3 separate regions of the Homo sapiens genome follow, and all the other regions are linked to region 3. Evidence: fine-mapped expression QTL. A gene starts in region 3. Each other region holds a variant in brackets. All regions are shown on one strand. Distances are between the middles of the regions.

Region 1 (4,240 bases), 210 kb after region 3:
AGGGAAGGCAGCCACCAAACTTAGGAAGGAGTCACAGAGTGAAATAAGCTACCAACTGAGTTTTGTGGTAATTTCAAGTGGGCATGAGCACCCTTGAACAGAATCCAGGGGTGGGCGGACAAATGGAAACTAATGCAGATACAAGGGCAGAAGCTGGGCACCCAGCATTGCAGGCAGATGGGGAGGGGTGTGACCTGAAAGCCATGCTTTCTTCCTCAGCAGGGAAGCTCATGGCCCAGGGCAGGTCTGAGTTCTACACACCAGCTGCCTGGATCTAAACTCAGTGCTGTTAGTGGGGCACCATGGGAGCAAGACTGGCCTCACCAACTCTGTGGGAGCTGGATGAGGACTTTCACTATGAGCTAATCCCCACTCCCCTTGCAAACTCTACTGCACAGCAGAAGCAGCCATACTCTCCTCTAGAACATAACCCCATTGGCCTGAGATCCACCCCTCCTATCCCCCAGCAGGCCATGGCAGGCCTTGCCCAGGGAGAATCTGAACTCAGGCCCGCCCAACCCTGCCCCGACCTGATGGTATTTATCTACCTGCCTTGTAGCTTAACACAAAAGACATAAACTCTTGAGAGCCTTATGGCCCTGCCCATTGCCTGGGAAACCAGAATACTTCCCCTAGACAACTTAGGCCAAGCTCAAATGTCACTGCTACTACCACAGCTGGTGCTCTCTTGCAAGTGTCCCCTCCTGGCTGGAAGCCAGCCAACTCAGGCCATTACAGCAACTCTTGGCAGAATAACGCTTCTTCCAGGAAGGAGAAAACAACAGCTAATACCACTCACTGCAACACCCTGGCTAACTAAAGGTCCTGAGTCTGTCCACATGACAACTTCACCGCTAGCATAACCAGCATTCAAGAAAGCCAGCACACTGAGTCTATCTACAACCAAGAAATCTCACAGACTACATCACTCCCCTGCCACCTCCATCAGAACAAGTGTTGGTATCCATGCTGGGAAACCTGAAGACAGATCACATCACAGGACTCTTTGCAGACATTCCCCAGCACCAGCTCAGAGCCTAGCTGGGTGGCTAGACCCAGAAGAGGAATAACAATCACTTCAGTCTGGCTCTCAGGAAGCCCCATTCCTAGGGGAAGAGGGAGAGCACCACATCAAGGGGTCACCCCATGGGACAAAAGAATCCAAACACCAGGCCGTGAGTTCCAGATCTTTCTACTGGTGGGAAGTTTCTCACAGCAGAGACACAATTGCAGTGCTGGGTACAGTAGAGAAAGTCTGCACCTCTACCCCAACAGGCAGGTGGCCTGTGTGATTATGAAGGGCACTAGAGAAGGCATCCTTGTTCCCCCTGGCACTACACTGCAGACACAGCTGAAGCTTCTTCCACAGGAATGCAGCATAGAGGCAGCTATAGACAGCCTTGCTGGAACAATCCAGGGTAAGCACAAGCCCCACAGGAGAAGCACCCCCCCAGATTCAAGCCTGCACAAGAGGCAAGAAACATCAACATTCCTGTAGATGAAAAGAGGTCCTGACTGATCTGAATAGCTGAAACACTGGGACAGGAATGAGACTGTGAGGTGAATAGCTTGATGACCTGAGAAGGGAGCTGAGGTAGCTCCTACTCCTCACCCTGATAAAACCTCAGGACATCAAATTGTGAGCTCCCGCAGCCATCCTCATCAAGGCTGGGGCCTGAGCCCACCATTGGGATTATATCTATTCACCTGCTTTAGCTACAACTAGTACCTACCCAAGAATACCTCCCCTATTGGCCTGAAGCCTGAATCGTCAACTCAGTAAATAAAATACTGGGGAAAAATTAAACAAATAAATATAGACCACAAGAGAATGAGATAAGCTT[C/T]AAGAGATCCCTGCCATTCCAAGTTCATAGGAGACAGTGAACTTGCCCACATACCAAGTACATAACTACTACAATCAGCATCAGGAGAGCCAGCACACAAAGACTCTCTATAACTAAGGAACTCATACAGAGTCTTCACCCCTGCAAGCACCAAGAATCAAATTAGACTGGAATAAATATTAAGGTCTAATCCTTAAGAGGGAAAAAATAAATTAAAAAAGCACAATCCCATCAAAAATAAATTCAAGAACAATTTGAAGAAATAGTCTACCAAAAGGAACCAGAAAAGTAATTCTGATAATATGACAAAACAGGGTTCTATGATACCCCCAAAATATAGTAGCTCCCCAACAATGGATCCAAACAAACAAACAAAAAATCTCTGAATTGCTGATAAAGAATTCTGAGGGTTGATAATTAAGCCACTCAATGAGAAGCCAGAGAAAGATGAAAACCAAATTTTCATTTTTTTAAAAGAAATTTAAAAAACAATACAGGATATGAATGGAAAATTTTTCAGAGAAATAGATATCATAATGAAAAAGCAATCACAACTCCTGGAAATGAAAGACATACTTACAGAAATACCAAATACAGGGGAAAGTTTCAACAATAGACTAGAACAAGTAGAAGAAAGAACTTTAGAGCTCAAAGACAAAGCTTTCATATCAACCCAATCAGACAAAAAAAAAAAAGAAAGAAAGAAAAAGAATTTTAAAAAATGAACAAAGCCTGCAAGAAATATGGGATTATATTAAATGGCCGAAGTTAAGAATAATTGGCATTCCTGAGGAAGAGAAATCTAAAAGTTTGGAAAACTTATTTGAGGGGATAATTGAGGAAAACGTCAATGGCCTTGCTAGATATCTAGACATCCAAATACAAAAAGCTCAAAGAACTCCTGGGAAATTCATTGCAAATAGACCACCACCAAGGCACATAGTCATCAGGTTATCTAAAGTCAAGACAAAGAAAAGAATCTTAAAAGCTGTGAGACTGGCTGGGTGTGATGGCTCACATCTGTAATCCCAGGACTTAGGGAGGCCAAGGTGGGAGGATCAACTGAGGTCAGAAGTTTGAGACCAGACTGGCCAACATGGTGAAACCTCATCTCTACTAAAAATACAAAAATTAACCAGGCATGGTGGCACATGCCTGTAATCCCAGCTACTTGGGAGGCTGAGGCAGGAGAATTGCTTGAACCTGGGAGGGAGAGGTTGCAGTGAGCTGAAATCATGCCATTGCACTTGAGCCTGGGCAACAAGGGTAAAACATCATCTCAGAAAAAAAAAAAAAAATCTGTGAGACAAAAGCATCAGGTAACCTATAAAGGAAAACCTATCAGATTAACAGCATATTTCTCAAAAGAAACCTTAGAAGCCAGAGAGGACTGGGGTCCTATCTTTAGCCTCCTTAAAGAAAATAATTGTCTACCAAGAATTTTGTATCCAACAAAACTAAGCTTAATCAATGAAACAGAGATAAAGGTTTTTTCAGACAAATGCTGAGAGAATTTGCCATTACCAAACCAGCACTACAAGAAATGCTAAAAGGAGTTCTAAATCTTAAAATACAATGTTTAAATACACCAATATAGAACCTCCTTAAAGCATAGATCTCACAAGGCCTATAACGCAATAACACAATTAAAAAAAAGTATTTAGGCAACAGCTAAAATGATGAATAGAGCAGTACCTCACATCTCAATACTAATGTTGAATGTAATGGCCTAAATGCTCCACTTAAAAGATACAGCATGGTGAAATGGATAAAAATCCACCAACCAAGTATCTACTGTTTTCAGGAGACTCACTGAACACATAGGGACTCACATAAACTTAAGGTAAAGGGGTAGAAAAAGATATTTCACCAAATGGAAATCAAAAGCAAGCAGGAGTAGCTATTCTTATATCAGACAAAACAGATTTTAAAGTAACAGCTGTAAAAATAGGCAAAGAAAGACGTTATATAACAATAAAACAATTAGTCCAACCGGAAGATATTACAATTCTACATATATATGCACCTGACACTGGAGCTCCCAAATTTATAAAACAATTACTACTAGACCTAAGAAATGGGATAGACAGTAACACAATAATAATGGAGGACTTCAATACTCCGCTGACAGCACTAGCCAGGTCATCAAGACAGAAATTCAACAAAGAAACAATGTACTTAAACTATACTGTAGAACAAATGAACTTAACAGATATTTACAGAACATTCTGCCCAACAACTCCAGAATATACAATACATTCTTCTCATCAGCACATAGAATATTCTCCAAGACAGTCCATATGATAGGCCATGAAACAAGTCTCAATAAATTTAAGAAAACTGAAATCATATCAAGTAGCTCCACAGACCATAATGGAATAAAACTGGAAATTAAC
Region 2 (4,240 bases), 200 kb after region 3:
AGACCCTTGAATATTCAGGTTCCCTTGGGGGCCTTCTACCTCTCTCCCACATCTGCCTTCCGTTTCCTAGGGACTGTCTGATCAAATGCCTTCCTGGAGGTCTGTTCTCTTCCCACCTGGTGACAGTAAGTCATCAGGTTCCTGGGGCCAATCAGACAACCTCTTGTGGACTTAATTGTAGGAGGCTTAAATGCTAGGATTGGCAATTTTTAAAATAAGGATCTTAATCTTAGAAAATTCAGACTGGGAACATTGCTTATCTTTATTTATTTTTTATTTTTATTTTTTGAGACAGGGTCTCACTCTATTGCCCAGGCTAGAGTGCCGTGGCACAATCTCAGCTCACTGCAACCTCTACCTCCCGGTTCAAGCAATTCTAGTGCCTCAGCCTCCCAAGCAGCTGGGATTACAGGCGTGCACCACTACGCCCAGTTAATTTTTGTATTTTTAGTAGAGCCAAGGTTTCACCATGTTGTCCAGGCTGGTCTTGAACTCCTGGCCTCAAGCGATCCATCCACCTTGGCCTCCCAAAGTGCTAGGATTACAGGTGTGAGCCACCGCACCCAGCCCTGGGAACATGGCTTTTCTAAGAGCTATTTTTAGAGGGAGAGTCCCCTGGAAGAGAGAATCGCCAAGTGGAAGGAGGTTATGACCATAAAATTACTGCAGTGTTGAAATCAGAAAAGATCTTAAAGACCACACATCCACCTCCCTCATTCTACAGAGTGGGAAGAGATTTAAAAACCTACCCAAGGCACGGGGTACATGGGAAATCTCTGTATCTTCTGCTCAGTTTGGTTAAGAATCTAAAACTGTCCTAAAAAATACAGCTGAACCTTGAACAACATGGGTTTGAACTGCACGGCTCCACTTATACTCAGATTGTTTTCAACCAAATGCAGACCAAAAATACAATATTCCCGGTATGCAAAACCTGTGTATACAGAGGGCCAACTTTTCCAATATGTGGGTTCCTCAGGGCTGACAAAAGGACTTGAGCATGCATGGATTTGGGTAGATGCAGGGGTCCTGGAGCCAATTCCTTCCATATACTGAGGGATGACTGTAATTTAAAAAAACAAAAACAAAAAAACCTATCCAAGAATAGCTGCAAATATTCATAAACTAATATTGCTCAACTGCAGCTTACAGACTCTGTTCAAAGGTAAGACATTTATTCTAAAAGCAAGGAGCCATTATTAATAATTACTTAAGTATTAGGCCTTCATTACTAATCCTGCTTCTGAGACATCTGACCCAGTTAAAAATAATTCTTACCTATCTTTCTAAGTCTAAGTGCTCTCCCAAAAACTGTACAGAGAGCCAGCATAAGGAAGTTCAGAAGTAAGGTTTCCTTGGCTCCTGTGAGTAAACATCTGAAGTGTGAAGGGTCTGTCATCTGTCTGTCCATCTATGTTTCAAGAAAGACCAGCCAAGTGACTGGAGGCAACCCCTCTCACCGTTGTGTCCCAGCTATAAAATGATGAAAAATATTTATCTCACAAAGTTGCTCTAGGAATTTAATGAGATGATGCACCCAAGTACACTGTTATATCTGGTACATTTCCAGGACACAAGTTTTTTTTTTTTCTTTTTTGAGACGGAGTCTCCCTCTGTCGGCCTGGCCGGAGTGCAGTGGTGTGATCTCAGCTCACTGCAACCTCCGCCTCCCAGGTTCAAGCGATTCTCCTGCCTCAGCCTCCCAAGTAGCTGGGATTACAGGCATGCCCCACCATACCCAGCTAATTTTTCTTTATTTTTAGTAGAGACAGAGTTTCACCATGTTGGCCAGGCTGGTCTCAAACTCCTGACCTCAAATGATCTGCCCACCTCAGCCTCCCAAAGTGCTGGGATTACAGGCGTGAGCCACCATGCCTGGCCAGGAACACATGTATTTATTGGCTCTAATTACCAATGTGATTCATGTTCAAATGTTATCAGAATATTGCCCAAGATAATGTTATCTCTGGGATTAATGAGATGATTTTTACTTTCTAACTCTGTAATTTCCATTTTTTCTTTTAATGAGTATGTAATATTTTTATAATTAGAAAAACATAATGACTTTTTAAAGAAAGTTATTTTTAGGGCAAGTGACTCCTGGTTGGTGTTTGGGAAAGTGCCATCATATTGGATTTATTTACACTAACATTTAAGTAATTGAGAGACCCTTAATTCTCACAGGAGTCTCAGAGTTATTTTCTTTTTCAGTCAAGGCTGTCTTGAAGTGCCAAGGGACTACATCATCAGTATTGAGAACAAATTCAGGCAACATGAAAGAAGTTATTTAGGGCAAGATTTACCACTCTTTTCCTTTCTAGAAGT[C/T]TGCCCCGTAGTTAGTTAAAAATGGTCATGTTTTCATATTTGGTTTTCCTCCACTCAATTCAACCAGTCTTTTTCTGACTACCTGCTATTTTCAAGCAAAGGGAAAACCATATAAAGAGAATTAAAGCCTAGTCTTTGTACTCAGGGTTTATTTCTATCTTTTTCTAGATCTCAATGTCTGCAATTTCCTGTCAAATATGAGAACAACATCCCAAAGTGGGAGAACAGATGAAACAAGACGGATAAAATACTGAGAAGTCTTGAATATAAGTGATAGGTACCTGAGAGTCCTTTCTTTCTCTCTACTTTTGTGAATGCTTGAGATTTTCCATAATAGTTTTTAAAATCTGGCAAGGAAGATAAGCTATAACAAAAGGAAAGGAAACATAAGTGCTAAGTATCATTCTTGGAGAATCTCTAACCACACACATTTTTACTCCACTAAAGTGGGTGGGGAGGACACCATGTATCACTCTAAAAATATTTACTAAGCATTTGCACCAAGGAGAAAGGGTGTGTTCATTCGGCAGCTATGAGCACCAAAATCAGCATTCCAACATCTCTGAACCTATCAGGTAATTTTGCAGACACAGGGCATGTGAGTGGGCTTGATGTTGTCCCAGGCACATGATCCTGATGCCTTGGGGCTCCCTGGGGCAACACCAGAAGAAAGACTGATTATTTTGCTACTCTTTTTACTCCTGCAGAGTTCCTAGGAGTTTACCTTTTACACACACATTGCCCCACTTTCCTTAGGCCTTGGTATTCATTATCCCAATTACAACTCCTTTAGGAGACTTCTAAATGATCACTGGCCAGATCCTAAAGGGACAGTGGTTCCCTGGGCAGGGTAGGAATGGGATAAAAATGATGACAGCCATTTACATGTACAAGTCATTTAAACCCAGAGATTAAGCTCCTAACAGCCCAACCTAGAAGCATTTGAGTAATTTAAAAAAAAAATGATGGCACTGTATTTTAACCCATAGGATAAAGTGACTATCCACTAGTCTACACTGATAAAAATGATCAAACAAATAAATGAATAGAAGAGAAGGGGCGGCTCTTTTCTTAAATTCCAACTAGTAAGAAAGTGAGCGATGGAAAAAAAATCACTCTCAGCAAACACCACTTAATAACTGTTGCAGACAAGGTTCACCAGTGGATGCTAAACTAACAGGCAAAAATTTGAGGATAAACAGTATAGTCTCAAAGTATCTTCCCCAAGATAATTCTTAACTACAAAGGGAAAGACAGTAACTTTGTAGTGGAGAAATCCAATCGCTCACCACAAGTTCATTCCACGATATACCTAACTGGTACTCTTCGAAGAATCAAAATCATGAAAGACGAGGAAAAACTGAGGAACTATTTCAGATTGGAGGAGACTAAGGAGAAAGAAAAACTAAATAAAATGCAGGATCCTTGATAAAATACAATGGGAACAGAAAAAAAAAACAGACATTAGTAGGAAAATTGATGAATTTTCAATAAAGTTTGTAGTTTAGTTAATAGTATTGATCAATGTAGTATGGTTATGTAAGGGGTTAATATTAGGGGAAGCTAGGTGAACTGTGTATCATTTTTACAACTTTTCTGTAAGTCTAAAATTAACTAAAACTAAAAATAAAGAGTCAGAGACTAGGTATAACCTGAGTCAACAAATGATAGTAAATTAACTTAATTCTCAAGGAGAATCATTGTTTTTGTATTCCTAGTGCCTCAAACCAACCTGACACATAGCAGGTACTCAATTTAGTAACAAATGACGGACTAGGATATACTAGTTGAAATACACAAGGACACATCATAATTCCAGGCTACTGCTAAAAGGAATGAAACATTAAAAAAGAAGGTGGGAAATAAAGATTAATAATATGAGTACAAAATTCCACCTGAGAAGGATTTTAAAAAT
Region 3 (4,240 bases):
GCTCTTTCTCCCTTGCACACATCTCCTGCTCTAGCAGCTTGGCCTTTCAAGAGTATACCCCTGCCTGTTCCACTTTACATCCTTCCTTCAGGCTGTTCCTTTGGTTAAGAAAGCCCATCCACTCCCATCTGAGCCAATTCATACCCTATTCATTCAATGTCCAGATAAAAAGTAAACTTTTCCAAGAAGTCTTACTTGATACTTACATTAACAAATAGAACTCATCATACATTCCCTGTACCATAAATTATTTGTGCATGCTTACAGCCTGTTTTAAAAATGCAAACTCCTTACGGGCTGCAGACACTCACACGCGTCTTTGTATTCCACCACCACCTTTCCCCACCAGATACTCAAAAGCACAGAGTGATGGCTCTGTAAATATCTGTTGAACAATGAACACTGTTTTTGAAAGTGGAAAATGCCTCTACATAACAGGTTATTGCCAAAACTGAGAAGTCCTTGGAAGTCTTTAAAAACATTTTTCTATGGCTTGGGAATAGTTTTGCTGAAGAAAAAAGAACAAATCAGATGACCTTGCAAGGCTGAGTCTGCGAATTGTATCAACTCTTTTAAAGTACTGCCTAATAATTCAAAAACAAACTATACACAAATGCTATTTACAAAAAGAGGAGCATTTATTATAATATACAACTTTAATAATAGAATGTTCTACCAAAAATTTGAGCTGTTCTTGTAATATTGGTAATATTTAGAGCTGTGTCCAAGGATTGCATAAAAAGCCGATTTACTCTCTTATTTCACACTTAAAAGTAGTAGGACAGAGAGAAAAACTGGCCATCTCAAACTAGTAACAGTACAAGATACTTGGAAGCACAAGTTCATAACATGGACATATTGATGTTATTGTGTGCACATCATCACTAAAAATATACCTACTGAACTCTAGAAAAGTTAATTTTGATGATAACAGCTTCATTAGTTTCTACGGAGAAGACATACAAAAAGTTTTCGTATTCTCTTCTCCCCTATTCAATGAATCTGCACAAGTTAAGTTGGCTAGTATTAGGTTACTTCAAAATCAGTTCGAATAAGGCCATGAAATGACTGGAAACATGCTGGTGTCTCCAGAAAAAAAACAGGGTTAACCACAAAGTTCCAAAATCACTGAACCCGCTTTTTAAATAACATCCTTCAGAAAAAAAATCTCAGTAAATCTCAGCAATAAATGGGACAGAAAACTGGATTCCACAGGAGAATGCACACACAAAAACAAACAGCACTGCATAGGATGAAAATCAGGATCTAAATTAATATGATGGCTATTCACCGAAAATGTAAGAAAGATTAAGCAGAGATTAAAAGCTAAATTTATAAACAGATGTTTTAAAAACCGTTAACAAGAAATTTAAAGACATTTATTTATTTTGTTCTAATATTGTTATATTCTATGTATTGTTGAGAGCCAACTTAAGTCCTTTGGAGATGAAGCTAGAGTGTAAATAAATTCTTGTTTTCGATTGTAGTATAGCACAGTATACAATTAGTTTTAAAATAAAGATCATTTTCGGCCAAAACGTGTATAGGCTTCTAAAAGGTTACGTTAAAGCTATAAAGTTTTCCAAATGATTTTAAAAGCACTTCTAGTTTTCCTAGGGCCGCCTAGTAAAGACAACTGGTTCTAAATACAGTTTCTAACTGGACCAGTGAGTAAGGGAGTTCGTTATCTAAAAAGGATCCTGCATTCCGCAGAGCGCAGCGAGGTGAGAGTCAGGGCCCGGCCTGGGACCGGAGGTAGCCGGACGAGTTTAGTTACCTCTCTGACAAGGAACACCTGGGCTGCGCGGGCGGCAGAAGCAGCCGCTGCAGGTGCGCGCGAGCCTCGGCCGCAGCAACGAACGCCGCCCCTGAGAAAGTTGGACTCCCGACCCTCGGCAAAGCAAGGAGGCTCTTTGCCGTCCCCAAACAGCTTCGCCCCGGGCCCGCCGACCCGGCCTGGCCCCACCGGGAAGAAAGGGCTGGAGCTACTCACCGTGCAGAGAGAGGAGCAGCAAAGGCGCCAGAGGGGAACGCTGAGAAGTCATCCCGGGGCCGCAGGGAGCGCGCCTGCCTCCTACCCGGCTCCCGGTCGCAACAGGAGAGGAGCGGGCGTGAGTCTCCGCGCTCTTGGGGCAGCCTGGTCCTCCCACACCCAGCGCCGGGCCGCTGTTCCCCGCGCAGAGCTGGGACTGTCAGACCCACAGACGAGCCAAGTGCAGCTGCAGCGCCGCCCGGCTCCGCGGACGCTGAGCTGTGACCAGAGGCGTTCCGGGCTCGCCAGCCGTGCCACCCAGCCCTGCCCCAGGACTAGCCGACCCCTCGCGCAGTCCGGGGAGCCACTCCCCCCAACTCACGCCCCGCTACTCCAGCCGCAGCTCGGCTCCTCGCCGCGCCGCCCACTCGCCCCGCTTGGTCTCCAGGGCAACCGCGGCTCCAGCGCGACGCCTGGCGGCCCACCCGCGGAGCAGAGCGCGGCGCGCAGCTGGCGCGGCCCCCGCCACCTGTGCACCGCGCCGCCCGCTCCCCCGCACGCCTCCACCAGCTCCGGGAACCGAGGGGTGGGCGCCCTCCTCGCCGGAGTTAGGGCCCCTCCCTTGGTCTAAACCCCTCCGCAAACAGGTGGTGTCGGCCTGATGCATCCTGGAGAGCTCTAGCAATGACTTTTCCACAGCCTTCCTCTGAGCCTGCAAGAGTCTTTCCTGTTGCAGTTTTCGGATAATTTATATTTGGCTTTTTCACTTTCAGTCCTCTCTTATAAAACCTAAATAATCTGAAAGAACCTGACTCTGGCAGAATTAGGAATTCCTAATTTTACAGTGTTTTGGTTTTGCGCTGTTTCCTGGATGCCTTTTCACCTTTCTTCCTTGAAAAGTGGATAGAGGCTGGACCATGCCCCTAACTCCCCATTCCTATCAGAGAGACTGCCATCTTCTCTTGCCCCTTTTGTAAACCTTATGTCAACTTCTAATATTTTAAGTTTTCCAGCTTAAACGTTAGTGCTTTCTTAAACTGACCTTAAGTATACATGTTAACTAGTGGGGTATGTACATTTATTGTAATCGTTGTTTAGTTGGGTTTTTTGTTTTTGCTTCTTGTTTGTTTGGGTTGGGTGGGGAGAAAGACTTTCCTAGCATCTGAAATTGTTTTACTTAAATATCTACCTACATCTTTTCTTGTAAAACCTATCTTTATTCTCTTATACTGGGCTCTGCTCTTTATTGTACAGCTCATAGTCACTTCCTGCTTCAGCCTCCAAACTGAGCCTTCTAAATTTGAGGACATACCTGCCCAGGGGATGCCAACCCATTTTGGTCAGTTTCTACAGCAGCATAAATTAGGGTTCTCGGAGCCATTCAGAAATTGAGCCCTCATCTGGCAAATACAATCCTCCCAGGGAAACTCAGAAACAAAAATAATATGCACAGAAGAAAAATATGTAAAATATTTTTTAAACATACATTTGGACAAGGATTGGAAGATATATGTAAAATTAAAATATCAAGATGGTGGAGTTATGGATGTACTTCTTTTTGAAAATGTGGATATTATATTTTTAAGGTTAAAAAAATGAAACATGTTAAGAAATGTTAATAACTTTTAACAAGAATATCCTGAAAGGATAAATTTTGATTATGAAGTAGAGATGCCTCAACTTTGCTCACTACTTCCAACTTGCTAGAATTCCCTACCAGATCTCTAATGGCAAGAAATAAATGATATGACAGTAGAGTTTTTCATATTAATAACAAATTTAAATTTCCAACTATGATATCACGAGGCTCATTCTCATTCTTTTAAACTCCAGGGTAAGGACTAGAGTTTCTTTTTTCCATCCAATTCAATCCCTCACCCTCTCTTGTACATATTCCTGCAGTCTAATCCAGTCCTAAGCAGGGTATAAGAGTAAGCAATATAAGAAGAAAAACAAGGAAGCGGTCAAGTGATAGGAGCTACTGAGAGCAACTCTTCATGTCACCATAATCCCAGATATAAATATAGAGGCAGAATATTTATCCTTTAAATAAATATCCTTTAAATAACCTAATAATCTGAGCTTAAAGCTCTGATAAAGCAAGTTATCTGATATATTTATCGCATCAATTTAACAACTATTTACCAAGTACCTACACTTTGTAAGGCACCAGGTTTAAGGTTAAACCAAAAAAAAAAAAATGACCCCTGACCCCAAATAAGTTCCAATTGCATATGGGCTATATCTGTGCTATCATAAATAAGCAGA

What was found. PIP is the estimated chance that this variant, and not a neighbour inherited with it, causes the effect. A credible set is the group of variants that fine-mapping cannot tell apart.
Region 1: its variant is the best candidate, but not a certain one, in a credible set for the expression of IGSF11 in whole blood (TOPMed, PIP 0.65).
Region 2: its variant is the best candidate, but not a certain one, in a credible set for the expression of IGSF11 in lung (GTEx, PIP 0.56).

Annotation. Positions count from the first base shown.
Region 1 is chr3:119,245,232-119,249,471 of GRCh38, forward strand. All of the region lies in intron 3 of B4GALT4-AS1 (B4GALT4 antisense RNA 1), which reads left to right. Among named protein-coding and RNA genes, the nearest start is that of B4GALT4, 6.5 kb to the left of the region's middle. The variant C/T (reference allele first, on the strand shown) is at 1,845.
Region 2 is chr3:119,232,539-119,236,778 of GRCh38, forward strand. The region is part of intron 2 of B4GALT4 (beta-1,4-galactosyltransferase 4); the gene reads right to left. B4GALT4-AS1 (B4GALT4 antisense RNA 1) reads left to right here. Exons shown (of 4, transcript NR_046574.1): 3 at 2,494-2,602. Among named protein-coding and RNA genes, the nearest start is that of B4GALT4, 6.2 kb to the right of the region's middle. The variant C/T (reference allele first, on the strand shown) is at 2,326.
Region 3 is chr3:119,032,538-119,036,777 of GRCh38, forward strand. It overlaps IGSF11 (immunoglobulin superfamily member 11), which reads right to left and starts at 2,309. Exons shown (of 7, transcript NM_001015887.3): 1 at 1,994-2,309. The coding sequence starts at 2,045. RefSeq lists a silencer at 2,230-2,589.